Linked DNA regions of Homo sapiens. The protein of the gene in region 4 interacts with the protein of the main gene of each other region in a pairwise test. Each region holds a gene or a part of one and is shown on either strand. Other genes may lie near its edges.

The links.
Region 1: the proteins of CCDC167 (region 4) and CX3CR1 interact in binary tests that used the Homo sapiens proteins (3 or more experiments, as listed by UniProt).
Region 2: the proteins of CCDC167 (region 4) and HSD17B13 interact in binary tests that used the Homo sapiens proteins (3 or more experiments, as listed by UniProt).
Region 3: the proteins of CCDC167 (region 4) and ARL13B interact in binary tests that used the Homo sapiens proteins (3 or more experiments, as listed by UniProt).

What each region holds. Positions count from the first base shown.
Region 1 is NC_000003.12:39,277,025-39,284,724, forward strand, and holds the start of CX3CR1 (CX3C chemokine receptor 1), read right to left. Parts: upstream 3,013-7,700; 5' UTR 2,930-3,012; intron 1-2,929. UniProt on the Homo sapiens protein: Receptor for the C-X3-C chemokine fractalkine (CX3CL1) present on many early leukocyte cells; CX3CR1-CX3CL1 signaling exerts distinct functions in different tissue compartments, such as immune response, inflammation, cell adhesion and chemotaxis.
Region 2 is NC_000004.12:87,305,865-87,312,888, forward strand, and holds part of HSD17B13 (17-beta-hydroxysteroid dehydrogenase 13 isoform A precursor), read right to left. Parts: intron 4,496-7,024; coding exon 4,379-4,495; intron 1-4,378. UniProt on the Homo sapiens protein: Plays a pivotal role in hepatic lipid metabolism. In vitro, it catalyzes the oxidation of a variety of lipid substrates, including 17beta-estradiol, retinol, retinal, and leukotriene B4.
Region 3 is NC_000003.12:93,983,151-93,990,174, reverse strand, and holds part of ARL13B (ADP-ribosylation factor-like protein 13B), read right to left. Parts: intron 2,230-7,024; exon of another isoform or gene 1,113-2,229; intron 1-1,112. UniProt on the Homo sapiens protein: Cilium-specific protein required to control the microtubule-based, ciliary axoneme structure. May act by maintaining the association between IFT subcomplexes A and B. Binds GTP but is not able to hydrolyze fit; the GTPase activity remains unclear.
Region 4 is NC_000006.12:37,482,872-37,489,895, reverse strand, and holds the end of CCDC167 (coiled-coil domain-containing protein 167), read left to right. Parts: intron 1-4,701; coding exon 4,702-4,796; intron 4,797-5,033; coding exon 5,034-5,086; intron 5,087-6,606; coding exon 6,607-6,710; 3' UTR 6,711-6,958; downstream 6,959-7,024.

The DNA.
Region 1 (7,700 bases), on a different chromosome or scaffold from region 4:
TCAGTGTGTTGTATTTTGCAATAAACAAAATACAACACACTGAAAAGAGACTTTCCATTTTCTCCTTAAGCACACTTTAAGGGGAAAACAAAGGTGGTCTAGGAAGATGTTTAAAGACATATGATACAGCTTTTCTTCCTTACTCACAAGCTAAAAAGCTGCACTTTGGCCAAACAAGATGAGGGGGTCGAAGCATCAGCTGTGGCCAGCGTGCCGTGAGAATCCCACCTGTGAAGCAGCCAGCAGATTCTGAGCCCCTCAAGAGGGCAGGTGGGATCAAGGTTCAGCTAGAAGCCCCAACTTTCCCCTGGCTCTTCTGGGCAGAGTGAGTGATGCCAGAGAGCCCAACTTCTCGGAATGCCTGGGCTGTGCTGCTAGGAATCAGAACAAGTCCTTGGGAAAGGCAGCCAAGATCTGGATTCTGCCATTCTGGTTCCACTCCCTCCTATGACCGTGACCTGCTGTGGAGCAGCAGAAGTTCCCCTCCTTGTTCAGCTCCTCCATTACAGGTGCTGGTTCCAAACGTCTCTGGACTCAGGATACTGGGTCAGAGGCTGGGGCTGGGGAGGAGCAGTTGGATGCCTGGATCCCAAGAAGGAGGTTTTTTGAGGCTAGGGTCTCTGGCTAGGGAGAACCATACCTGACATTGCCACTGTGCCATAGCTGCCTAGGGCCGGGCAGGCTTCCTCCTGGGATGGGGTGGGGTGAGGAAGGGGATAGACGATCGTCCTGACTGGGTCAGCTCTAATACGTTCTTTGCTTTCCTGCCCCTACAGCTCTGGATTCTTCACAACCTCATTCAATAGTAGTCAGTGTTTTTCAGGTATCCAAACTTTCTGAGGCTCAGTTTCCTCATGACAACAACATATATCGTTTCTTGAGCATCAAAGATGGGTCAGGCAGTGTGTTTGGGACTTCCTATACCATGCCTTTAATCCTTGCAGAAAGTTGACACATACCCATTACATGGCTTCAAAGGCTGATGGACAATCTCCATTTTAAAAGCAGGAAACAGACTTAGCAAGCCCAGTGCACAGTCACCAAGTGCAGAGCCAGGACTTCATTCCTGACTTCATTCCTTCATTCCAAAGCCAAGCTGCCTATGTCCCCATCTGTGAAGTGGGGCCAGCTGAGGAGCAGGGTTCAGGAGCAGACTTTGTGGAGACTGGCACGTGGCTGATGGATAGTAGGTGCTCCCATCCCAGAGGTGTGGCAAGTGCCAGGTAAGCCTGAGCACTAAGAAGAACCACACTGAAGTTGGGCTGAGACTATTTCCTGCCCTGCCTTCCTTTGTGAAAATAAAGCCAAGCAAAGAGGAAGATGAAAGAATCCACCCTAGCCTTCCTGAGCCCATTTCTCATTCCCAGGGGTTTTGAACCCCAATCCACTGCCCCCATTCCCAACCCACAGTGGTCCTCAAGGCTCTCCAGCACAGGTCCGTCACCCACCCTGCCTCCTCTCAGGAAACCCAGCTCCCTCCAAAGCGCCCTCTGGGCCTGGGATGCCCTGAGCAATGCAAGCTTTCTTGCCTGCTTTCACGTGGTTCAATTTTCCTTTTTTTTTGGCTCAATTTTTTTCTGCCTCAAGTTTTCTACCTCAAGTATTTCAAAAATTAATTTTTTTTTCTTTTCTTTTTTTTTTTTTTTTTTGTGGAGTGGGTGTTGAAAGAATCCTAAACTTTCTTAGCCATTCTCTGGACTGAGCTATAAACTCACAAAGCAAGGATTGCAGGCTCTGTGAGGCTGTGATTGCCAGAGGCAAGGCAAGAGAAATAACAAGCCGTGGTCAGTCCTCAGCTGGGGCCTCTGATGGATTTCCTCCTGTCTTGCACTCATAATTTCTTTCTGAAGACCATGTTTTCCACCCACACAAACCTGAGCCTGAGTATCCTCACAATGGTTATAACAACATATATCAAAATTGAACACTAAATTTGTGCCAGGAATTTATTAATGGAGAAACCCCGCCTCTACTAAAAATACAAAATTAGCCGGGCGGTGGTACATGCCTATAATCCCAGCTACTTGGGAGGCTGAGGCAGGAGAATCACTTGAACCCAGGAGGCAGAGGTTGCAGTGAGCCGAGACTGTGCCATTGCACTCCAGCTTAGGCAACAAGAGCAAAACTCCGTCTCAAAAAACAAAACACAAACAAGAAAGAAAACCCAAAAAACAAAAAACAAACAAAAACCCATAGATGGTACAAAAAGTGGAAGAAAAAGGAAAAAAAAACCCATGAAACTATCTGCAATGCAGTTTCCTAGAATCAACCACAGTAATCTTTTAGCTTTTCTCTATCTAAATGTTATACATATTTTATATTTATATTAAGTGCATTTATATTTATATTAAAATACAGATACAAATTTAAAAACTCTTTATTATTAAATTTTCAAATAAAAAGCAACTTTTCAAATAAAAGCAGCGAGAACCTCCTTATACCCAACACCTGGCTTCAACTATTAGCAACCCATGGTCAATATTTCCTCTATTTCCCACTTAATGTCTCTACTGAATTATTTAATTTCACCCATAAACACTTGTGTGCATCTCTAAAAGTTAAGGACTCTTTTTTGAAAAAGACTTTAATACAATTTCTCATCTCAAAAAATTAGCAATAATTCCTCAACAGCATCCAGATGCAATTTTTCATGCTTTTTTCAGTTAGTTTAAAATCATGAGCTTTTCTCCATGTCTCTAAAATGTAATTACTAATGCTTCTAATACTATTCCACCAGGTTGAGTGTATTATAAATGATCTGATCACCCCTTGCCTCCCACTCTTCCATCCCCTTGGACATATTTAGGCTACAACATCCCCAGGAAAATGGTTTCCATTGTCTGCACGTAAGCAAACAGGCATTATTAACCTATTAGCTGTCCACTGCTCCACCCCACCCACAGGTACCCAACTAGTCCTGTGCACCTACCTGGCGTGGACTGCCAAGGGAACCTCTGGATCTGCCAGTCAGCCACCCTGTCCTGCTCAGACTTTACCAGAGACGAGTATTTCCCTTTCCTTCCCTCTAAGAGCATTTTATTTGCAGAGTTAGCCAATAGTATCTTGTTTCCTGTAAGGGAGACTATCTTTAGATGCTGCCACAGGCAAGCTCAGATACTCCAGGGTGGAGGCCAGCTGCCAACAGGAGGGCCTGACTTTATAAACCTGGAAGATCTAAACCTCAGGGAAGACTGCGGAGCTGGAGGGAGAGAGGTGCCACTTACCCCAACCTGGAGGTGGGGGGCAGGGAGCAGGCCCTGCAGTCAGCAAAGCACAGCACAGTCAGCTCTCATTAATGGGGAGCCTTCAGGAAGCTGGGAGAGCTCATGGGGCCCTCAGCTTCCCTGCCCACGAGAGGGAGCCCAGAGTACTCACTGGACCACACTGGGGCACACACAGCTCTTCTCCTCAAAGTGCAGTCCCAGGCACTGGGAGCTTATTAAAGACAGCACCTCAAGCCCTGCCCTATATCTGCTGAATTAGAATCTGCATTTTAATGAAATTCTTAGAAGAGTGATATGCATACTAAGTTTGAGAAGCTTTGGTACTGAAGGCATCTAGTGAGTACCTTGCACCTTGTAGATGCTCGGTAAATATTTTTTTCCTCACCTCTCTGCCCCAAGGCATTTAGTGGCTCCCTATACCCATCAGTCAAGGCTGAGGACACAGCTTTCACCCAGGACCTGGCCTATGCTCCTTTCACAGTCTCTCCCCCTGCCACTCTTGCCCTGCAGTGGGGAGCCTGGTGGGCTCCGGCATCCAGCCATGCTTCTGCTCCCTGGCCTGGCCAGCTTGGGGCGACTGCAACGTGAATCTCAACTGCCACTGCCTCATCACCTTCCGATCACTTCATTACCTGCCTGACCCCTGGCATATGCTATATAATTCTGATCCATCCCTAACTAGGGCCTGGCCCATGGTGGCCTTCAATACACCTTCATTAAATGGTCTGTGACCCCTTCAAGGCCCCTCTGGCCCCTTGCTGCCCACATCCCAGCCACATCCGGTGCTCCCTTACCTCTAGTCGCTGTGGTGTTCCGAGGACAGCGGGTGCTCTGTGTGCTCCCCACCTTGCCCCTCCTCACCTCCCCCAACCCCAGGACAGAGCTGGGGGCTGCAGTGCAGTGCTGCGGGCTTGGTGGCCTGCTCATGGTGGAAGAAGTCCACCAGCAGTTTTCTTTCTTTGTTCTTGGTCTCAGTGTTTGGCCACCTTTCCCTGCCTTTGGCCAGAAGGCCACAGGACAAAAGCAGAGTCAGGCCGCTCCCCATCCACTTTCTGACACTGGCCCCTCCCCACCCCACACCACCCCTTGATACCTCTCCTGGGGTCCACTCAGCTGGGCTGGCTGCCTCAGCCCCTTCCTTGCCTCTGACTCCCCTCCTCTTCTGAGGGCTCCTTTCTTGGATCTGGCCAAGACTCTCCCTCTCTTCCTGTCCCACACTCTTGACGACAGTCTCATCCACCCCACATCAGTAATCCCCTCCGTGTTCATGAGCACACATCTCTACCTCCATCCAGGGCCTGGATAATTTCCCAAGCCCATCTAACCTTCTCCGTTCTCTGTCTTTCCTCTCACCACTTACCCCACTGGCCATTCTCCACCCAGAAGCCAGAGAGCTCTTCCTGAAATCCAAGTCTGCCAACTTAAACGCCTCCAGGGGTTCTCTCATCCTGGTTTAAGTCCACGGCCTGGTAAGCACGGCCCGCCCCTTCTCACTTCCTACTGTGCTCTCACCACTTCCACTTCCCCCAACATGCCTGTGCCCGTGGCAGGCTCTCTTCCCTTCCCAACTCACCTGGCTGTCCTGTCCAGGACGTGATTTTACCCTCTTTTAAAGCTAACGGCTATGTTCCACAGCTGCTAGCAGCACAGGGCTTCATGCTTGGCAAGCATGAGAACCAGCGTCCAGTGTCAGTTGCCTTGCCCCCAAGCCCCACAGAGTGATGCCATGGCTTGGATAGATACCTGTGAATGTGTGAGGGATGGGGAGGTTATAGGAAGGGAACTCTGACCTTGGGTAACGTGCCATTTTATAGCAAGCAGTAAGCAAGTCGGTTATTTGGCCCTGAGCGAGATGTCAGCTCATCCTTCAAGGTTGCTCACTGCAAACTCAACCCTGCAAGATGGACCAAGTGAAGAGCATTAGTGCTTTGCATTCTTGACACACTCATGGAGACAGAAAGAGCCTTGGCAGCCTTCCCCCTCCCTCCACGCCTCCTTGGGCCTCTGTAAAGGAGTCTCTGGCTCAGCGCTGGGAATTCTCTCCTCCCTGAACTCTTGTTCAACCCCTCCCCCGTACTCTCACTCTGGTACAGCCTTATTCCTTAGATCCCCGTCTTCATCTCTCTTTCTGCCCAGCCCCTTTGGCTTCACTCTCTGTTGGAGCTGACCCTTGTTCACAAGTTCTTTGTCATTCTGCATTTCTCTTCCAGTTGAGACAGTAAATGCAGAGGACAGTTTGGTTTCTGCTGGGCAGAGAAATGAGAGTGTGGTGGGCTGGCTCAAAGGCAGGAGGCCAGACAGAGAGGCTGTGAGGATGGTGGGGACACCCTGGACAGTGATGGGTGTCCCCACCCATCACTGCAGGCACCCATCACACAATGCAGGCAAGGACTGGAGACTTGGTGTGAATAAAGCTTTGTGGGAATGTGGGGTAGAGATGCAGAAAAGGAGAGTGAGAATGTGATTCACCTTAATTGCCAAACCAAGATACTTCCATGTTCTTCTGTGGGCCCTGGAGAAATTTGGGAATAATTACATAAGCAGTTGTGCAGCACTAGGTCTGCCTGAGGCAATGTCCTAAGTCCTCGATGTACATGAACTCATGTAGTGCCCCCAGTGACCCTATGATGCAGGTGCTAATGTTTTTGTTTTTGTTTCTTTCAGACAGGGTCTGGCTCTGTTATCCAGGCTGGAGTGCAGCCACATGATCATAGCTCACTGCATCCTTGATCTCCTGGGCTCGAACGATCCTCTCACCTCAGCCTCCCAAGTAGCTGGAACTACAGGCACACATCACCACACCCAGCTAATTTTTGTATTTTTTGTAGAGACAGAGTTTCGCCATGTACCCAGGCTGCTCTTGAACTCCTGAGTTTGAGTGATCCTTCTGCCGCAGCCTCCCAAAGTGCTGGGATTACACGTTTAAGCCACTGTGTGTGGCCGCAGGTACTATTATTATCCTCATCTTATATGTGAGGAGTTTGAGACAAGGAGGAGAAGTTATGTAACTTGTACAAGACCACACAGCTCATGTGTGGTAGGGCCAATATTTGAACTTAGCATTGAGGTTTTATGGTCTATGCTGTGCATTCTTAGTAGAGGTGGTATTACTTCCAAGGTGGCGAAAATTGGTTCTGGAAGGTTCTTGTGCTTTATGTATAAAACACAGATATACATATAGTAGCTAAACCAATAGCATATCTGTGGAATAAAATTCCATGGTAGGGGGAGGTGAGTAAGAATGTAATGTGGGCCAGGCATGGTGGCTCACGCCTGTAATTCCAGCACTTTGGGAGGCCAACGTGGGTGGATCACGAGATCAGGGGTTCAAGACCAGCCTGGCCAAAATGGTGAAACCCTGTCTCTACTAAAAATATAAAAATTAGCCAGGCGTGGTGGCGGGTGCCTGTAATCCCAACTACTTGGGAGGCTGAGGCAGGAGAATCGCTTGAAACCGGAAGGTGGAGGTTGCAGTGAGCCGAGATAGCGCCACTGCACTCCAGCCTGGGCGAAAGAGCGAGACTCCATCTCAAAAAAAAAAAAAAATTATATATATATATATATATATATATATATATATATATATATATATAATGTGGTTAATAGGCACAAAAAATACTTAGAATAAATAAGACCTAGTATTTACAAGCACAACAGGGGCACTATAGTAAAAAAAATTTAATTTACCTTTACAAATAACTAAAAGAGTATGATTGGATTGTGTGTAACACAAAGGATAAATGCTTGAGGTGATGCATACCCCATTTCCTCTGATGTGATTATCACACGTTACATGCCTGTATCAAAGCATTTCATGTAACCTACAAACATATACACACGCTATGTACCCCGCCACACACAAAAGAATATAATATCTAAAAGGACTTGTTGGGGAGTGATTAAAAAAAGCTGAGAAACCATTGTCTAAGTTTTTTTTTTTTGTTTGTTTGTTTTTAGACAGGATTTACTCCCATCACCCAGGCAGAAGTGCTGAGGTCCGCCTCCTGGGTTCAAGCTATTCTTCCACCTCAGCTTCCCGAGTAGCTGGGATTACAGGAGCCTGCTACCACATCTGGCTAATTTTTGTATTTTTAGTGGAGATGGGGTTTCACCACGTTGGCCAGGCTGGTCACGAACTCCTGACCTCAAGTGATCTGCCCACCTTGGCCTCCCAAAATGCTGGGATTACAGGCGTGAGCCACTGCGCCCAGACAAGAAACCCTTGTCTAAGGTCTTAATCAGACCACTCTGCTACCTCCCAGTTTAAAGTCTGGGGATTAGAGGGTGACATGACAAAAGTAGTCTCTTCAGAAAAATCAATCAATGGGTGGGTGTGAGGGAAACGGCTGCATAAAAGGGAAGGAAAAGACGTACATCAAGGACTTCTCCATGCCAGGCCCTGTGCGAGGCACATTGTCCATTATATCTCTTTTTTACTTTCACTTTCTAGTCAGGTATTATTTTTTCCATTTTCAG
Region 2 (7,024 bases), on a different chromosome or scaffold from region 4:
GATTACAGCATCAAGACATTCTAGCCTGCAAAACAGTAACTTTATTAACGTCTTGCAGCGGAGTACGTTAATAATCGTAACCATGCATTAAAACTCTCATTTCATGTCAAAAAGAGAGTAATCAGTTTTCCTCATGATTTATGTTTTACTGAATTTCATACAGTTCGTCCCTCTGAAAATGTTTTTAGGAACATTCCCTCTCCAAGGAGTGCATCTTAAGATACCCAGGTTGCTTACGACAGGTCATCTTTGGTCATTTTAAATCAATCTGTCTGAACCTATGTGTGCACCTTTGTAATATTCATAGTTCAAATTGGATGCAAATATAAATAAAGCACTGATACATACCACTCTTCTCACTCTCTTATCTGATATGAGTAAAGATCTAAAACTGAAGGTCTGAGCTCATTGCTGAAACTGCTGATTAATCTTGATGCTAAAAGCTCACCAAGAGACACCACCAGAATCCATTCTATGCAAGCCTTCACCTCTCCTTTACTATTTACTGAATATCTATTATGCACTCTATAATAAGGTAAACTAAAGTACTTGAAAAATAGCTATTGTCTTTGATATTGTTTAGCTGATAGGCTAAAATGGTCATCTTAAAACAATTATTGAAAAATATCAGCCATCTAGAATTAAGGGCTATAACTGGAAGGAGGATTCACATGGGCTGGGATAGTGGAGGAAAGCTTCAAAAGGACAACTGATGTCCAGGAATGCATAAGAGATGAGTAGGCAACTGAAAGGAAGAGAGTGGCTGGCCCGGTGGCTCACGCCTGTAATCCCAGCACTTTGAGAGGCACAGGTGGTCAGATCATGAGGTCAGGAGTTCGAGACCAGCTTGACCAACATGGTGAAACCCTGTCTCTACTAAAAATACAAAAAAACTAGCCAGGTGTGGTGGCACATGCCTGTAATCCCAGCTACTCAGGAGGCTGAGGCAGGAGAATTGCTTGAACTCAGGAGGTGGAGGTTACAGTGAGCTGAGATCAAGCCACTGCACTCCAGCCTGGGCAACAGAGTGAGACCCAATCTAAAAAAAAAAAAAAAAAAAAAAAAAAAAAGGAAGACAGTATGTGAATGTAAAGAGGCAGAAATAATAACATTCTGCAGAGAAAGTCATATTGAAAATCACTTTGGTATTGTTGACTAATGCAAGATTTACTTCCTTGTTTTGGGGGTAGGTGGGTGAAAGATGGAATGAGCAAAGGGGCAGGGAAGATCTGGCTGAAAGAAGGACAAGGATAAGAAGAGAGCTCATGTGGGCCTTTTAACTACCCTCACAAAGAAACCTTCATGCTAGTAATTGCATCTGCTCGTAAAATTGTGTCTCTCTATAAAAGGAATTAAATGCAAAGAAGATTAACAATATATACCTGTTGCCTAGTTACAAACCACCATGACAGCTTCAAAGGATACAAAAGACTTTGAGACTCTTGTTTATTTTACTGGGATACTATTCTCCAACTCAGGCAGAATAATTGTTTTTATCACCTTGGTCATATGCATGTATATGCATGTAATTTTCAATATTAATATGACTTGCTTTGGGCCCCAAGAGAGTTGGGGTTCCATGAAACTCACTTCCTACAGTGCTTAGTACCAAGACACTAATTTAGTCAACTTTTATTTTTTTTCATTTTTTTAAAAAATTTATTTTTCCGAGACAGAGTCTCCTGTTGCCCAGGCTGGAGTGCAGTGGCACAATCATGGTTTACTGCAATCTCCGCCTTCCGGGTTCAAGGGATTCTCCTGCGAGTGCCTGGTATTACAGGTGCAGGCCACTATGCCTGCTAATTTTCGTATCTTTAGTAGAGCTGAGGTTTCACCATGTTGGCCAGGCTGGTCTCGAATGCCTGACCTCAAGTGATCTGCCTGCTGTGGCCTCCCAAAGTGCTGGAATTACAGGCGTGAGACACCACACCCGGCCTAGTCAACTCGCGAGATGATGTTGCTTGGGGGTCAAGGTTCTCCTTATGTTATCTCAAGTCAGTCTATTTAAGCTAAAACCAAATACTGAAATTGATACACCAATGCAGTTTGTACCCTGTTCTCAAATTGTTCTATTTCAAGTTTGTTCATAGTTTATATGGATTTGTTTCAAAAAGGCCCAAGGCTTATGAAGTTAGTATAGTTATCTTCTCACTGATACAATTTCAATTTAGAAACTGCTCCTCAGAAGAAAGCTGAGAGAGTATTTCCTCTGGGAAATTGTTGCTGTTGCTATTTCATATAAATTCTGTTCTCTAAGACTTTAACATTTGAAGTCTATACATTTTCAGTGACAGGGGCTTTGTTTGTATTACATTATTTTATTCTTATGTCATCCTTATAAAGAAGATATTATCAGCATATTCATTTGGCCAGGTGCAGTGGCTCATGCCTGTAATCCCAGCACTTTGGGAGGCCAAGGCAGGAGGACTGCTTGAGGCCAGGCATTCAAAACCTTTGTTGCCTGGGCAGCAAAGTGAGACTGTCTCTACTAAATAAATAAATAGGCTGGGCTTGGTGGCTCACGCCTGTAATCCCAGCACTTTGGGAGGCTGAGGCGGGCGGATCACCAGGTCAGGAGATCGAGACCATCCTGGCTAACAGGGTGAAACCCCGTCTCTACTAAAAAAAAAAAAAAAAAAAAAAAAAAAAAAAAAAAAAAAAAAAAAATAAGCTGGGCATGGTTGCAGGCGCCTGTAGTCCCAGCAACTAGGGAGGCTGAGGCAGGAGAATGGCATGAACCCAGAAGGCGGAGCTTGCAGTGAGCCAAGATTGTGCCACTGCACTCCAGCCTGGGCAACAGAGCGAGACTCTGTCTCAAAAAAATATAATAAAAATAAATAAATAAATAAATAAGACATTCTAAAGACATTAAAAGGATAATAAGGGAATGTTATGTACAAATTTATGCCAAAGAAATTCTACAACTTAGATGAAATGGACAAATTCCTTGAAAGACACACATTACCAAGAATTAATAAGTAAATTGAATAGCCATGTAGCTATTAAAGAAATTAAATTTGTAATTAAAAACTTTCCCATAAAGAAAATTAGAGGCCCAGGAATCTACCAAAAAAAAAAAAGCTTATCGAGTTTAGCAAAAAGAGGTTTAGCAATTTAGCAAGACTGCAAAATATGAGATCAAATTACAAAAATCCAATATATACTGACAACAAACAATGGGAAATATAAAATTTTTTAAAATGCCACTTGCATTAGCGTCAAAAACCGTCAAATAGGGCTGGGCATGATGGCTCATGCCTGTAATCCCAGCACTTTGGGAGGCTGAGGCAGGTGGATCACATGAGGTCAGGAGTTCGAGACCAGCCTGGCCAACATGGTGAAACCCTGTCTCTACTACAAACACAAAAAGTTAGTTGGGCGAGGGGGCAGGTGCCTGTAATCCCAGCTACTTGGGAGGCTGAGGCAGGAGAATCACTTGAAGCCAGGAGGCAGAAGCTGCAGTGAGCCAAGATCACGCCACTGCACTCCAGCCTGGGCAACAAGGGTGAAACTCTGTCTCAAAAAAAAAAAAAAAAAAAAAAAAAAGAACCCGTGAAATACTTTGGAATAAATCTGACAAAATATGTGCAAGACTTAAACACCAAAAACTACAAAATACAATTTAAAGATTTAAAGATTTTGAAGAAGATTTTAAAAATAGATATTATGTTCTTGGATTAGAAAACTCAATATTGTTGATATGTCAATACTCCCCAATTGCTCTATAGATTCAGTGCAATCCCAACCAAACTTCCAGCAGACTTTTAAAAATGGAGTCTTTATTATTAACTACTTCACTATATTGCATTCTTTTTAAACTGTGTTTCCTTTAGTTAGAATAGTCTTCAGCAAAGTTTGGGCAGAGACAGTAGATTTGGTAGAGAAAATGAATCACTCTCTTTTTATAGACTGGGTAGGAAAATAACAGAGGAAATAACTGTTCTCCCCAGGGATGGAGAGTTTCCATGCCAATTTTCACAACTGAAAGATGCTCCATAATAATAGCTCTATTGGGCCAGGCATGGTGGCTCATGACTGTAATCCCAGCACTTTGGGAGGCCGAGACAGGAGGATAACTTGAGGTCAGGAGTTCGAGTCCAGCCTGGCCAACATGGGGAAACCTGTCTCTATCAAAAAATACAAAAATTAGCTGGGTGTAGTGTGGCAGCACACACCTATAATCCCAGTTACTTGGGGGTCTGAGGCATGAGAATTGCTTGAACCCAGGAGGCGGAGGTTGCAGTGAGCCAAGATCATGCCACTGCAACCACCGCAATCCAGCCAGGGTGACAGAGTGAGACTCTGTCTAAAAAAAAAAAAAGCAAAAAAAAAAGCTCTATTGGTGTTTTAGTATTTGGGTGTTCTGTGCTGTACTTACTTCTGTAGTCTCAGAAAGATATTGATATACGATGGAACAAAAATCATTTTCTTATTGGTAAGTATTCCATCTATCAGACTTCTTACGACTTCATCTGTCTCCAATACAGGCCATAATCTGTGATTAAAAAGAGGAAAATATTATTTTTATTTTCTAAAATTTTAATTTTATAAGTAAATGATGGCAGGAAAATTATCCTATATTTTTACTAAATTTAGAATGAAGATTTAAAATATTCCAGGATTTGCTGCATTAATGCCACCCTACCCACTTCCTCCACATCCCATGTTGATGTTTTGTTATCAGAAACTTATACTTTCATATCCAGTAGGTGTGTTTCATAGCTCACTTAGTCAAAATATCAAAATGGTGGCGAGGCATTAGATGGTAAGGAGTAGTGGAGCCAGACAAGAAAGAGGAATGGCTAGGATTAATCATGGGACAGGAAGGAAACATCTGACATCTCAAAGCCTGTTGGATGCAAGGAGAAAATTCTATAGCTAAGTATACTTTCTTTCTTGTGGAGGTATTCCATAAAGCTGGATTGTTTTGAGGTCGTCATTTTGTCAGAGGCGTTTAAATCAGAGCAACTCCATCTTGAATAGGGTCTGGGTAAAATAAGGCTGACACCTACTGGGCTGCATTCCCAGGAAGTTAAGGCATTCTTTGTCACAGGATGAGATAGGAGGTTGGCACAAGATTCAGGTCATAAAGACCTTGTTGATAAAATAGGGTGCAGTAAAGAAGCCGGCCAAAACCCACCAAAACCAAGATGGTGATGAAAGTGACCTCTGGTTGTCCTCACTGCTCATTATAAGCTAACTATAATACATTAGCAAGCTAAGAGACACTTCCACCAGCACTATGACAGTTTACAAATACCATGGCAATGGCAGGAAGTTACCCTATATGGCCTAAAAAGGGGAGGAAATCTCAGTTCTGGGAATTGCTCACCCTTTTCCCGGAAAACTCATGAATAATCCACCCCTTGTTTAGCATATAATCAAGAAGTAACTCTAAATACCCTTGGTGGAGCAGCTCAAGCCATTCTTCTCCATGGAGTAGCTGTTCTCTACTCCTTTACTTTCCTAATAAACTTGCTTTTGCTTTGCACTGTGGCCTTGCCCCGAATTATTTCTTGCGAGAAATCTAAGAACCCTCTCTTGGGGTCTGGATTGGAACCCCTTTCCGGTAAGAATTTCGTATTTGAGATTCACCTCTGACTTGCCTATCCTGCAGTTTAATGAGAATTTAAGAGGGGCCCAAGGAGTATGACAACTGGAGGTATGTCATACTTCCAGTTTTCCTTATACTGAAGGCTGTGTACATGTACTCTTGAGAAATATTCATAAACATAGGCTTAGTGTAGAATTGTCTGTTAGTGCAAGATGATGACAGAAAAATGGATTTAAAATGTTGTATTCAAATTAAGATGTCCAGGCATGGACTGAACAGCCAGTGAATGTAAAGGCTGGGTGAGGAGTTAGGGAGCCAGCGAATGTTAAAACTTCATTCCCTGGGATGATCTGTGGTTTGCTGCAGATTATTATGTGATTGAGTTCTCCACTGCCTTGAATAGCAAGCCAACAGAGAGTAATACAAATCAATACATTTCTAAATTACTCCGTTCTGCCCTTTCTCTCCCTGATTTCATCTACATGGATCCAACAACCCAGCCTCGGAGCCAAGTGTGACATTACATATCAATGCCTTAGCCCTTACTAAGGAAATTCACAATCTAGCAACCTCTATAAAATCAATCCCAAATATTTAGCATTGCCTGTGTCTACCTCTAAGTTAGCCCCCAGGAACCCTGTACCCAGAGTTCCATTATCCTTACTCCCCTCATCTATCATGCCTTCCCCAAGAGTGGCAGGATACCCTTAGGAAAGCTCATGGTACACGAAGCCTGAATGCCTACCAAGAGGGTTTTTATTGGGCCCAATTCCTTGTCTAAGAAAACAATCAGGAGTTGCAATAGTACTATAGTATTTACTTACATATTGCATACTTATTAAGTACTGTGAGACAACGTAGCAAATGTAAGAAGCCACGTTTACTCACTTCTGGTTGTCAGCATAATTTCACAAAGTCCCTGACTCTGTGACAATGTGCAGCTCTCTGGAAAGATGCTTTGAAGACAATACAGGATAGAGCACATGGCCCCCACTATCAGAACAGTTCAACTGAACCTCTCTAAAGGGCTGCTCTCAGGCTATAGGCCTCCGACTGTAGTCTTCAGTAAGGCTTCTAAATAAAATTAACACCTTTAATTCTTTTTTTTTTTTTTTTTTTTTTTTTTTTTGAGACGGAGTCTCGCTCTGTCGCCCAGGCTGGAGTGCAGTGGCGCGATCTCGGCTCACTGCAAGCTCCGCCTCCCGGGTTCACGCCATTCTCCTGCCTCAGCCTCCCGCGCAGCTGGGACTACAGGCGCCCGCCACCACGCCCGGCTAATTTTTTTGTGTTTTTTAGTAGAGACGGGGTTTCACTGTGTTAGCCAGGATGACCTTTAATTCTTTAAAAACTTATTTTTTTGGCCGGGCATGGTGGCTCACTCCTGTAATCCCAGCATTTTAGGAGGCCAAGGCAGGTAGGACACCTGAGGTCAGGAGTTTGAGACCAGCCTGGCCAACATGGTGAAACCCC
Region 3 (7,024 bases), on a different chromosome or scaffold from region 4:
AAATTAGCCAGGCTTGGTGGCGCCCACCTGCAATCCCAGCTACTCAGAAGGCTGAGACAGGAGAATCACTTGAACCCAGGAGGTGGAGGTTGCCGTGAGCTGAGATCGTGCCATTGCACTCCAGCCTGGGCGACAGAGGGAGACTTCGTCTCAAACAAAACAAAACAAAACAAAACAAAAAAAAGAGATACTCAAACTGTATTATCAAATAATTAATGATGTAACCTTTCCAGAAGTTGAAAGTGAGCCGCTTACTCCTAATATTATAGTCATCCCTGGGTCTTTGATTACTAGAAAGGCTGAGATACAAAGGACTCTGTAGTATTATAAGATTTACAGTATGTTATACTAGTAATAAGTAACATAAGAGGTATTATGGGTACTCTGAAATGTAGCCACAAATTTGGTGTTAGAGACCTGAGTTCAAGTGCCAGATTTGCCATTTCTAAGCTATATGGCACATTACTTTTCAGAATTTCATGAATGAAATAGGATAATAACAATAGCTACTCTAAAGGGATATAATGAAAATTAAATAAGGTTTCAATGAGCTGGGATCATGCCACTGCAGTCTAGCCTGGGTTGACAGCATGAGGCTGTTTAAAAAAAAAAAAAAAAATTAACCATAGCATTTTTCTGCTTAAAATCCTTATAGAGAATCAAGTCTCAATTTGGCAGCCCCCACTTCTGCCACTCCCAGGAAGCCTGCCATGCCGAGGATTCCTTCCATGCCGAGTACTCCTTCAGCCCTTCACAACCATCCCCGGCTACTTTTTATACAGGCTCCTCTACCAGAACTTCTCTTTATCAGCTCTGTAGTGCCTGTATCAAATGTGTTGGGCACACAGTAGGCTTCTTTACTGAAAGAAACAACAAACATTTTCTGAACCCCATTTGCTGAGTAAATACTAAGTAAAATTAAAATACATAACTTTAGATTGAGAAAGTACTATAATGAAGCTAATTTATATAAATCTTCACATCAAAATAGTTCATATTAAAGAATGTAATTATATCCATATATATCAAATTGGCTGAAGTTTTCTGAAAAAGCTTACATGCTCATGGTTTCAAGGTACTAATTAACAGAAAGACTTTCAAAACTGAAATAGGGGTCTCAGCAGCTCGGGCAGCGGGAGGAGTGCCAGTAGCCAGGCAGCCCAGCTTCGCGAAGGCTCTCAGCTCCGTGGCCCACAGGTGCCCAGCAAGTGCCCCTCCTGCCGCCAAGATGCCCAAGAGGAAGGTCAGTTCAGCCGAAGGGGTGGCGAAGCAAGAGCCCAAGAGGAGATCTGCGCACTTGTCAGCTAAACCTGCTCCTGCAAAAGTGGAAATGAAGCCAAAGAGGCATCAGGAAAGGCTAAATCTTCAGATTAAAAAAAAAAAAAAAATGCAAACAAATGGGAAAAGGGGAGCATAGGGAAAACAGGCCAAAGTGGCTAACCAAGAAACTAAATAAGATTTACCTGCAGAAAACGAAGAAACTAAAACCGAGGAGACTCCAACCTTTGATGAAGCAGGAGAGAAAGAAGCCAAGTCTGATTAATATCATATACCATGTCTTATCAGTAGTCCCTGTCTCCCTTCTTGTACAATCCAGGGTATTTTTATCAACTGCTTTGTAAGTGCAAGTCTTTTAGTAGCTCTAGAAACATTTTAAGTAGCAGGAACTCCCACCTCATTCCATTGTTAAGTTTTTTCTGAGGTGAAATAATTCTCTGGTTGTTTATTTTTTGGTGAAACCAGAGAATAGTATGGGATATTGAATTACAGGAAGTTTTGACTGTCTTGGATGTCAGCTTAACATTCCACAGATGGGGGCTTAGTTTTTATATACTGTAATACAAAATATACTAAATGGCAATACAGAGTCAGAATCCTGCATTTAATGTCTTGAACATTTTAAATTACTTCTATTGCCATGTTTTTTTTTTTTTTTCACAGAATTGTTTCCTAAAGAAAACCACTCCTTGATCATGGCTCTCCCTGTCAGAACTGTGTACACTATAACATCTTTGGTCACAGAAGTCCTGATTTCCTAATAACTGTGTTAATGTGCTGTGAAAGATTGAAAATTTGGGTATATAGTGTACATGCTATTAAACTGTGAATTGGTAGAACGTGTACAGCTTATCAAACACTTGTAGATACTGGCTCTTGATAATCCTCTTAAGAAAAATTTGCCTCCAAATGTTAAGTTGGAATGTCACTATAATAACTATTTAAAAAAGAGGCCGGGTGCAGTGGTTCACACCTATAATCACAGCACTTTGGGTGGCCAAGGTGGGAGAATTACTTGAGCCCAGGAGATTGAGACATGCCTGGTCAACATGGTGAGACCTTGTCTCTACAAATTAAAAAAAAAAATTAGCCAGGCATCGTGGCATGCACCTCCCAGTTACTTGGGAGGCTGAAGTGGGAGGATCGGTTGAGCCCGGGCAGTCAAGGCTGCAGTGAGCCGTGATCACTCCTCTGCACTCCAGCCTAGGCAATAGAGAGAGACCGTTTCAGAAAAAGGAATTACAATAGAGGTTTTCTAGATTTTTGGTATGTATGTTAAGAATTGTGTACAATTTGAAATGTCTGTATACTTATTCTCAACACGACAAATAAAATCTCCATTACAAAAGAAAAAACTGAAATAATTCTTAGTAAAAACAAAAAAAAATCAAAGGTAGAGATTAAGGGATCCAAAGGTCTGTTTTACATCACTTTAGCTATCTGCCGAAACAAGTGAAGACTTCCATACTCCAGAAGCTAATAATTAATATTGTTCAAGTCAACACAATGTATATAATAGATCTCCTAAGTGAGAATATGAGAATATCTTATCTCAGAATTCCTTTTTATATAACGGATATACAAATTAATATATCAGAAATACTGGTCAGGCACAATGGCTTATGCCTGTAATCCCAGTACTTTGGGAGGCCAAGACAGGAGGACTGTTTGAGCCCAGGAGTTTGAGACCAACCTGGGCAATATGGTGAGATCCTGTCTCTATTTAAAAAAAAAAAAAATCAGAAATATAAGCATCATGGCATTAGGGAGGATTGAACTTAGAAAACATTTAAATTCTGAATCTTTCCTGAATGACATTATCACAATCATTTGAACACCTACAAGTCTAAACTTCCTCATCTTTTAACTAAGGAAGACAATACTTTCAATATGATAATTAGATAAAAGCTATTCCTTTTTTTTTAGAGACGGAGTCTCATTCTGTCACCCAGGCTGGAGTGTGCAGTGGCGAGATCTCCACTCACTGCAACCTCTGCCTCCTGGGTGCAAGCAATTCTCCTGCCTCAGCCTCCCAAGTAGCTGGGATTACAGGAGTCTGCCACCATGCCTGGCTAATTTTTTGTATTTTTAGTAGAGACAGGGTTTCACTATGTTGGCCAGGCTCATCTCGAACTCCTGACCTCAACTGATCCATCCACCACGGCCACCCAAAGTGCAGGGATTACAGGTGCGAGCCATCATGCCTGGCCCATAAAAGCTGTTTCTAACTTCAAAAATATTATGCAAGTCAAAGAAAACATTTCGCTAAAAACACTAAAATCAAAGTTTGACACATCGGAACTCTATTATCTACAGTATTTAAAACTACATGAAGCAAATTCTAAATTTTAACATAAACATAAATTCTAAAAGTAACAAATACATATACAAAAAAAGACTTTAGAACAAGGTTTTATGATACATATGTGAGAATTTTAAAAAATCACTATACGACAAATTGATAGAAAGAAAAAAATGTATCGAAAAAACAGTGTGATTTTATTGCAGTACACTATTTTCTGACATTTCAATTCAGATCTAGAACCCCATATTACAGCAAAATCATTATCTAAATTTACTGAGTATGAATAAATAGTGAGAAGGCCAAGCTTGGGTTTATAGCCTGCTTTTAAGCCCTGATCAAGTCAAATTCTTAGTGTCCATTTTTTCATCTCTAAAATATAAGGGGGTAAAATAAGAATGTCTCTAGGTCCTTTTCTATATTAAAATTCTAAAATTCTTACTATGCATAATCAAGAAGAACTAGGGGGATAAAAAGAGATGTAAAATATTCCAGTTCAGCATACAGCACAATAGATAATCCTTGCTAATCTGTACATACAGCTTAATTGGAAAATTAAGAACTCAGCAATTTCTATAAATGGTCTAGATTTACAGTTATATTTATTTAGGCCAAGAATGATGGTATTAGGGAGCTAAGTATTCCCTCAGTGAAAAAGTTCATAGCAAAGAGGACAAAACAGACCACTAGAAACATTGTGTACTGTATCTTATTTTAGACTTGGCCACAGCAAACAATTTACTAATAAATTTGAAGTAAAGCTTTGATAGGTTGTATTTGTGATGCTGAAAAAACACAGATGGACAAGAAATCAGTTCCAATTAAAGGTTAACTCTGTGGAAGAATGGTGGGAGATGAATAGGGGGCAGGAAGTTTCAAGGATTTGTTACCTACTTATTAAAATAAAATTGAAATATGATGACTAAAGATTAATATTTATAAAACCTGGCAGGCATATGGTACTTATTATATCTTTCTTTTTGGTTAAATAACAGTAAAAACATTTTTGTTAGTTATGTATGCATAATATATAAGAAGTTATATAACATGTATATTTTCATATAAACAAAGAATTTTGTTGCCAAAATTTGTATGCAAAATTTGTTGCATGAATTTCTTCAAGACCCAGGTAAAATTACACCCCTTCTAAAATCCTCTTTCCTGATTCTCATTAAAAATCTTAAAAATCATATTTCAACTCTTGCATATTCGATCATTATATTTTACATGCACTATTTCATCACCTAGATGCTATGTTATAAATAACAGGAGCTCAAAATCTGTAGATGAGAATGTGTAAGGGTTAGAATCTGCTATAAGGCCCAGAGATTTACTGAGCATCATAGCTTCACAGACCTTGTGTCCTGTACTCAGGATGAAGGCTGCTCCCTATAAGCTAAATAGATTGCAATAGATTAACAGTTTTTAATGTTAAAAATGAAAATATAAAACTACAAGAAAAAAGTATATGTGAATGTAATCTTGTAATGCTGATGAACTTTCTAAACATTACACTGAAACAGTAATATATTTGAATTTAAAATTTTTATTTAGTCTTATTGATTGATTGATTGATTGATTGATTGAGACAGGGTTTCACTTTGTCACCCAGGCTAGGCTGCAGTGGGGCAACCTGGGCTTACTGCAGCCTCCACCTCTTGGGCTCAAGCGATCCTCCTGCCTCAGCCCCCCAAGTAGCTCGGACTACAGGCACATGCCACTACTTCTGGCTAATTTTTTAAAACATTTTTGTACGGATGGGGTCTCACTATATTGCCCAGGCTGATCTCAAACTCCTAGGCTCAAGCGATCTTCCCAAGTGCTAGGATTACAGGTGTGAGCCACCACACCCAGCCTGAATTCAAACATTTTAAATGTTTATATTTAAAAAGCACAAAAAGTTGAAAATATAACAAATGGAAAGAAAATACTTGCAATATTATACAACTGATCCTTGAACAACACACGTTTGAACTGCACAGTTCTACTTACACACAAATTTGTTTTTAATGAAAGTTACACGTGTGCCTTCCTCTCCTGCCTCCTCTGCCTCCCCAGCCTCCATTTCCACCTCTTCTGCCTCTGAAACCTTCCTGAGACAGTAAGACCAACCCCTCTTCCTCTTTCTCCTCAGCCTACTCAATGGGAAGAAGATGAGGATGGAGACTTTTATGATGATCCACTTCCACTTAATAAATAGTCAATGTATTTTTTTCTTCTTTTTAATTTTTTTTTTTTTAGACAAGAGTCTTGCTCTGTCGCCCAGGCTGGAGTGCAGTGGCATGATCTCAGCTCACTGCAACCTCTGTCTCCCAGGTTCAAGTGATTCTCCTGCCTCAGCCTCCCAAGTAGCTGGTATTGCAGGTGCCCACCACCACACCCAGCTAATTTCTGTATTTTTAGTAGAGACAGGGTTTCGCCATGTTGGCCAGGCTGGTCTTGAACTTTTGACCTCAAGTGATCTGCCCACCTCAGCCTCCCAAAGTGCTGGGACTACAGGCGTGAGCCACCGTGCTCCGCCCCTTATGACTTTCTTAACATTTCCTTTCCTCTAACTTTAAGAATACAATAAATTATACATATAACATAAAAAATATGTGGTAACTGACTATTCATGTTATCAGTAAGGCTTCTAGTCAACAGGAGGCTATTAGTAATTAAGTTTTTTGGAAGTCAAAAGTTATATGTGGATTTCTGTCTGTGCTGGCAAGGCAGGGTTCAGTGCTCCTAAACCCTGCGTTGTTCAAGTGTCAATTGTACTACAGAGAAACAGTAGCTACGACAAACACTTAAAATTTCTTTTTAAAAATTCATTAAGAAAACACACCTGCCCCAATAGAAAAAACACAACAGTAATCAATGGACAACTGCTGAGAGAAACAAAAATGCGCAAGGAAAAAAAGTTAATCTTCCTAGTAATAAAAACAAAACAAAACAAAAAAAACCCCAGAAACTCAAAGCAGAAAGCAGGTTCCCCTATAATGTGAAGGAGATGAAAAACCGATGACTCTTGATTTTCTCAGTGAAAAAGGCACTCCAACGTACTGTTGGTAGGAGTAGAAACTGTGTTTTCTCTTTTTTAATCCTTTCTGAGGAGCAATTTGGTAACATATTTTTAAAAGATAAACTTAGGAACAATAAAATTTCAAGAGTTTATTTCCACATTCATTGATTCATGAATGGAGCCGTACCAAACTGAACCAAAATTCATGAATGGGGCCATACCAAACCCCAAATAAGTGGGGTTCAGTACTCCACTAAGGGGGATGAAGCGTTAAACTTTTATAAGATCTTGACTGCTGACCTAGACTGGTGCCTTAACACTTGATCTCTGACTCCTGCCTTGTCCTTATCACACAAATCTAATCCCTGATTCCAATGTCTGGAATAATATGCTCACTAGGAAAGGATCTAAGTGAGGAGAGGTGAACAAATACAATGGGT
Region 4 (7,024 bases):
ACTTTGCCGGTCACAGTCACAGCCGTAAGTGCTGCCCCCTGATAGCTCCAGGCAAGTCCTGGCCCCTGAGCCAGGCATGCCTCTTCCTGCCAGCTGGCCCTACTATGCAGCCTGTCGGGCAGGAGTCCTGGGAGCCCCTGTGGCCTTCAGAGTATAACTTTCCCTTCCTACTGGGCTTGGTGGGATCCCTTCCACGGGGCCTCTTCAGGCTGCCTAGAACCATGGTGTGAGTGAGCCCTGGCTCTGGCTGCTGGGCCTCACCTGCTGTTCCACATTTCCTCAGATGCCCACTGATGCCCAGACCGCCCCCAGGCTGTTCCACCTTGGACATGGCTCCAGGCCTCTCACGCTAGGATTCTACCAGGTGCCATGTCTGCAACCTGGCCCTGGCTCCAGAGGCCCACCCCAGCTTTGTCCCAGGGAAGGATCGCAAGGTTCCCACCATGCCATGTCTGGAGTAAGCGGAGCGAGCTGGCCTGTGGCCTGTTGTTGTTCTGACATCTACCCTGGGGGCCCTCCCTGCTGAACCTCTTCATGGACTGGGAATGGCCACATCCAAGGTAGAGGGGCCCTCCTCCCTGCACTGCCAGTCAGCAACTCATGGAGATTCCTCTCCACCTCACACCCCTGCTGTTTTTTTTTGTTTGTTTGTTTGTTTTTGAGATAGAGTCTCGCTCTGTCACCCAGGCTGGAGTGCAGTGGTGCCATCTCGGCTCACTGCAGCCTCCACCCCCTGGGTTCAAGCAATTCTTCTGCCTCAGCCTCCTGAGTAGCTGGGACTACAGGCGTGCGCCACCACGCCTGGCTAATTTTTGTATTTTTAGTAGAGACAGAGTTTCACCATGTTGGCCAGGATGGTCTGGATCTCCTGACCTCGTGATCCGCCCACCTTGGTCTCCCAAGGTGCTGGAATTACAGGCGTGAGCCACCATGCCCAGCCACACCCCTGCTTCTATCACCTTCTCTTACTCTTGCCATGGACTAACCAGGTTTTCTTTTATTCTCCAAAGATCTAGTGCAAACCACTCTCTGATAATAAAGATAGCAAACACTTACTGAACTCTGACCATGTAAAGCATGTTCTGGGCATCTTACCTGTTGGCTCCATGTCATCCTCACAAAACTCTTTGAAATATGAAATGTGGTTATCTTTGTTTTACACGTGAGTCAACTGAGCACAGAACTAAGGGAGTTGCCCAGTCATACCACAAGTGAGTGACAGAGCCAGGGGCACTGATTATAGCCCATGCTCCTTACCACTCACTTACCTGGAACCACCATTCCAGGCTTCTGGGCACTTGAGCTCCCAACTGCTTGCCCAGTTCTGGCCCTTACACTTCTAGAATCTTCTTGACATTTGTCTCCTTATCTGGTCCTAATCCCCACATCTTCTCTCCTGGTCCTGGCTGTCTTGTCTTCCGTTGCCTTTAGCCTGGTGGTGGCAAGGAGAGAGCTAACCAACGACTGCACATTTGCCTCGGGTCGTCTGCAAAGTGCATAATCCGTGTGCATGTAGTTGAGAGCTGGCTGAAAATCCAAGTCGGGACTTCCTTTAAGACCCACTTTCTGGGTCCTCTCCCACCTTTCAGGCCCATCCTGCTGTGTCAGCTCTGCTCTGTAGCCACCACTCCTGACCCCAGCCACAACTAAAAGAGGCATCTGGACCTACCTTCCCTCCCTGCCTCTGCAGCCAGGTCCCCTGGAGTCTCTCCACTCATGTTGACAGCTGGCTCCTGCTTCAGCAAATGCTGCAGGGTGTTTGATTGTCAGCTTCCCGAACCAGGCCCAGTGCTGGGGACCCCGCAGGGTCACCTTCTGAGGATGGGTTTGTGGCCTCTGAAGAGCCTCTTGACAGTCTTAGCCTCCCCTCACTCAGCCCACATCAAGCAGCTGGGTTATAAAGAAGGGGAACTTGCTATTTAGAAGGGAATCAGCGAGAGCTGTCAGCAGGACATAAATATTCATAGAGGGAGGTTAGAACTTGAGTCCCTAAAACCTTGATTTGTGTTCGACCGTTTAAGCCTCATTAAAAAGTGGCAAATGAAAGTGGGAATATTCAGTGGAACTGCAGATAAATTGGGCTTGTTCAGATAAAGGCCCCCGACTGCCAGCTCCGCAGGCTCTGCCCAGAGCATGATAGCAGATTGGCTTGGCCACTTGTGGTTTGCCAACCTCAAAATTTTAAGATTTTGCTTAGCATGAGTTCCTGGCCTTGCTCTGGGGGCAATTACCACTTGTTTGGGCACTTGGTAGCCTTCCAGAGGTGTTCAGGGATGGAATTCCGCAATCTGCTCCCTCCCCAGAATGACACGCAAACCAAGGCCTGGCTCAAGGACTGTTAAGGAGAAATCTCACCTAGGACTAAGACTTGCACTGGGCAATCTGCAAAGCGTACAATTTATGTGCATGTCTAGTTGCTTCTCCTCCTCCTAGCTTTTTCTAGCTTCTATGGACAAGAAGAACGGAGGTTTCAGGCTCCAGTTGCTACGTGAGACCTAAACCGTCTGTCCTTGCCCCTCAGTCCCACCCAAGCTCAACTCCACTCATTGTGGCTAAAAATACAAAGACTGCAGCAGGCTAGGCCTTGGTGGGCACAAAGAGGAGACAGATGGTCACTGTTCCTTCTAGGACAGGAGCTTTAGACTCGGGCCTCTGCCGGGACCAGGCAGTTCACATATATAAGTGGAATGGGCCAATCTGTGGGCTAGACCTGACCTACGGGCTGCCAGTTGGCACCATTTAGAGACCCCTAGAGTTTGGGAAGATAAAGTTTGGACACAAACAGAAGGGCAACAAAGAATATACTCAGCCTCATGAAGGAAGGACTGGTTAATTTCCCAGGAGAAGGAGGGTGGAATGCACCCCGTCCCCTGCCCCCCAACCCCCACCCCCCTGCCACAGCCAAGGGCAGCAGGGAAGCCTGGTGGAGGAGGTAGGGCATCAAGAATTAAGCTTTATTTGTGCTCTTGAGTGGAATCTGAGTCTCAGGGTACTGAGGGGCTGGGCTGTGTGCTGGGGGTGCTGCTGTAAAGGGGAGGCCACATGGTGGCCTGAGGCACTGGGCATGGGGCTGCCGCTCTTCCCTGAATCTGGCTTCCCAGTGTTCATTTCCATGCTGCACAGGTTCTAGGTAGGCCTTTGGCCTCCCCAGGGACAGCCCCATCTCCTGGCTGGGTCTGTTTCCCAGGACAGCCCTCCTTTTGGGTGCCCAGTAGCAGAGAAACGACACAATTAACCAGGCAATTAACTCAAGGCTCTGTGGTCGCTCTCTCCCACAGGGCCCTGCTTATGGGGCTGGAGGTGGCCATGGTGGGGCTGCAGGGCAGGGGGTGGATGGTGTGTCATTGCCAGGCCTCCCTCGGGAAGAAGGAAAAGTGGCTGACATGGAAGTGGCTGAGATGGGTGTTGGCCGTGGAGAGAGACAGAAGGCCCAGAGACTTGGAATGCAACTCTCCTGACACTCAGCCCCAGAATGCCTGCTACCCTCTAACCAGCCATTGTGGGAGGCAGGGATCTTACCTGCAGTCATTGATTACTAACCCTGCAGGGGCTAACTCCAGAAGCGAATGGGGCAGAGAACTGGCTGAGACTGATAAGGAGAGGGGTGCCCCACCCTGACTTCTCAGAAAGTCATTCCATTTGGGGGACCCCCATTCTTCCATTCGTGAAATGGAGGTCTTATTTGCCATGTCTCCTAGGGAAGTGGTGAGAATGAGTGAAGTCAGAGATGGGAAATGGAGCATTATGGGGCTCCGAGGTACTATTCAGTCAGCTGCTGGGAGGGTCACAGAGCCCCCTGAACCCTTCCACCCACTGACACCCAGGCTCGCCCCAGCCAGAGAGGTGGCCAGCTAAACACCTGGAGACTGAGTCAGACACAGGGAGATGGACTTTCAATGCCAAAACCCAGGTTTGGACAACCCAGTCCAGTATGTTATTAAACATTTCTCCACAACTCAAGTATTTCCCCAAGAACACTTCTCTGAAACTCTAATCAAACAAATGGAAAAAACAGATACCTTAACTATTTTGCTACCTTGATGGTAGGTAAAGTTTTTGCTTAAGAACCAAGTCAGAGAGGAAGAAAGGTGTTTTTGAGCATTTTTCTCAGTAATTTTTGATTCTCACAGAAAAATGTATATTTTTACAACTTGGACTACTAAGTTATTAAGATGAAGTATGTCAATGAGAAAAACACCTCTGTGTTGCCCCTAGATGTCTAATCACCCGGCCCCACACGTGTGGAGTGTTTGGAAGCCAGTTTCTTCACAGCATCTCCGCCACTCTAGGATACGCCCGTGGGGCAGGTGCATGCCGTGTTCAGGGTTCTGGTTGCTCCTGTTGTGCGCCCAACTGGGGCATCGTGCTGGGGAGACAACAGACCAAGGGGCTGCTCCTCTCCACCCCCAACCTGTGCTTGGCCCAGAGGGCTGGGACAGCTGTGAGACCCTGGGCAACACCCACTACTGTTTACAGTGTGGCTCAGGCCACTGTCCTGTGCAGTTCAGAGCTGAACCACGTGGAGGCAGAGGACAGCAAAACAAAGACACTCCAGGGAAGACAGGCCTGGGTGCCCTGCCCTGCCAAAACGAATGGGGGGAACACCTGTCCAAGAAGACTCCCGGAGGCCCTGCTTCCCAGTCCCAGTGTTTTGAGAGCTAGAAGCCTCGGCAGCCCACCTCTCTGTGGCCTTTGTTTCAGATCGATGGGCTAGAGGAGAAGCTGTCCCAGTGTCGGAGAGACCTGGAGGCCGTGAACTCCAGACTCCACAGCCGGGAGCTGAGCCCAGAGGCCAGGTAATGCTCCTGCCCAGCCACCCCACCCTTCCCCATCAGGCCCCCACCCCCTGTATCTATCCTGGGTCCCCCAAAGTAGGCCTGAGGCAGAGGGTTTGGGTCCCTGACATCTTAGCTTCAGTGCACACCCCCCCTGCCGCCGAACAAGACCCAAGCCCTGCCAACTGGCATGCCAGCTGCCCCTCGGGTGGGGAAAAGGAAAAGGGTTTGGTCCATGAAGCTCCTTTCCCCTCACAGGAGGTCCCTGGAGAAGGAGAAAAACAGCCTAATGAACAAAGCCTCCAACTACGGTAAGAAAGTTCCTTTCAGTTACCAGCCCCAGCCTCCAGTCCCCAGAACCAGGAAGGGTCAGAAGCCCAAGGGGCCTGACAAGGCAGCAGGGAGCAAGGGGGTTCTTTGGGAGGGAACCAGCCCCCAGAGGCTGCAGACACCCCTGCTAGGTCCAGCAGCCTGCGGGAGAGCAGGTTTGTTGCTTTGTTCTAAGGGAGGATGAGACCGCCTGTGGGTCTGTCTGCTCTTTGGGATGAAGGGATGTGGCCGTGGCCAGGTCTAGGAGACAATCATTCACCTAGACATCGGAAGTCTGCTCTCCCCACGCCCCAGCCCACCCCACCCCAACCCACCACACCCTCCCAGGAAAACCATGCAGTGGGAAGTGAGGGGTGAAGGAAGCCGAACCTCCCACTTGGGTACGGCAAGGGCTCCTGTGGGTGGAGCGATGCCGCCACCTTCTGGGCGCTGGGGGCAGAGGCAGGTAGAGGCCAGGCCCGGCGGGGCGCCAGAGGGCGGCTGGCAGGCTGGTGGGCTCCCTGCTAAAGGCTGGGGAGGACCACGGTCTATAGGTGCTCCTCAGACTTGTCGGTTCTGTTCTCCCCTGGGGGACCAGGCCTGGCCATGAATCAGCCCCAGGAAGGTTCTAATGGCAAGGAGTCCCCCAGAAGCGCTGGTCTGATGAATGCCGTAGGCACAGTGCACACCTACCAGCCCTGCCTGGAGTTCAGCATGTCTGGGCCGGTGCACCCTGGGCCCTGGACTCAGTCTGGCCTGCCCAGAGCAGCTCTGCAGGTGTCTCTTCCCACTGCCCAGCACAGACAGGGATGGGACATTAGTTTCCCTTCAAGTTTAGCGGTTTTCACACAAAACCACACCACCACTCAATTTAGCCCTCACAGAGTACCCCCTACCTGCGTGTCACCTGGAGGGGATACTTTGATACAAGTGTGGCCATAGAGCAGCAGGACTGATTTCCTCTAGAGTCAAGACCAGCTGCCTCATGGACACAAACTGCATCTTAGCGTCCCTAGATTCTGCTCAACCAGGCACCCGGCAGAGGGCAGGGACTCAGGAAACACGTGGCCCCACCTAGCACCTCCTCCACTGTCAGGCCCAAGGAGGCCCCAGGTGCCCTCAGTTTCTGGTTGGCGGATGAGATGCCTTGAAGGATGAGCACCACAGCCAACCCCATGACAGGCAAGCAGACTCACCTGGCGGTCACACCACCTCCTAGCTTGGCTTTCAGGTGTGGCATTTTTGGTGACTCCTCACCCACCTCACCCTCAACCTCAACCACATTTAAAGAGCCATAGTTGAGCAGCACTGGGCGTTGGGACTTTATCAGGCTGGCTCTATAGCCAAAAGGGTGTCAGGATTTGGGCAGATTAAGAAGGGCAGAGTCATTTTTATGGGTAAGGAGGTGGCTGGAAGGGTGCGTCTTTGCCCTCAGCAGTGTGTACCCACTCGTTGGAGAGGCAGAGCAGAACAGACGGGCCTAAACTGCCTGTCCTATCCCTATCACCCTCTTTCCTCCCAGAGAAGGAACTGAAGTTTCTTCGGCAAGAGAACCGGAAGAACATGCTGCTCTCTGTGGCCATCTTTATCCTCCTGACGCTCGTCTATGCCTACTGGACCATGTGAGCCTGGCACTTCCCCACAACCAGCACAGGCTTCCACTTGGCCCCTTGATCAGGATCAAGCAGGCACTTCAAGCCTCAATAGGACCAAGGTGCTGGGGTGTTCCCCTCCCAACCTAGTGTTCAAGCATGGCTTCCTGGCGGCCCAGGCCTTGCCTCCCTGGCCTGCTGGGGGGTTCCGGGTCTCCAGAAGGACATGGTGCTGGTCCCTCCCTTAGCCCAAGGGAGAGGCAATAAAGAACACAAAGCTGTTCCCGTCTGCTGAGTAAATGTCATGGTCTGACTAGCGGAGGGTGGACGGTGGGGGCAGGAAGAGGC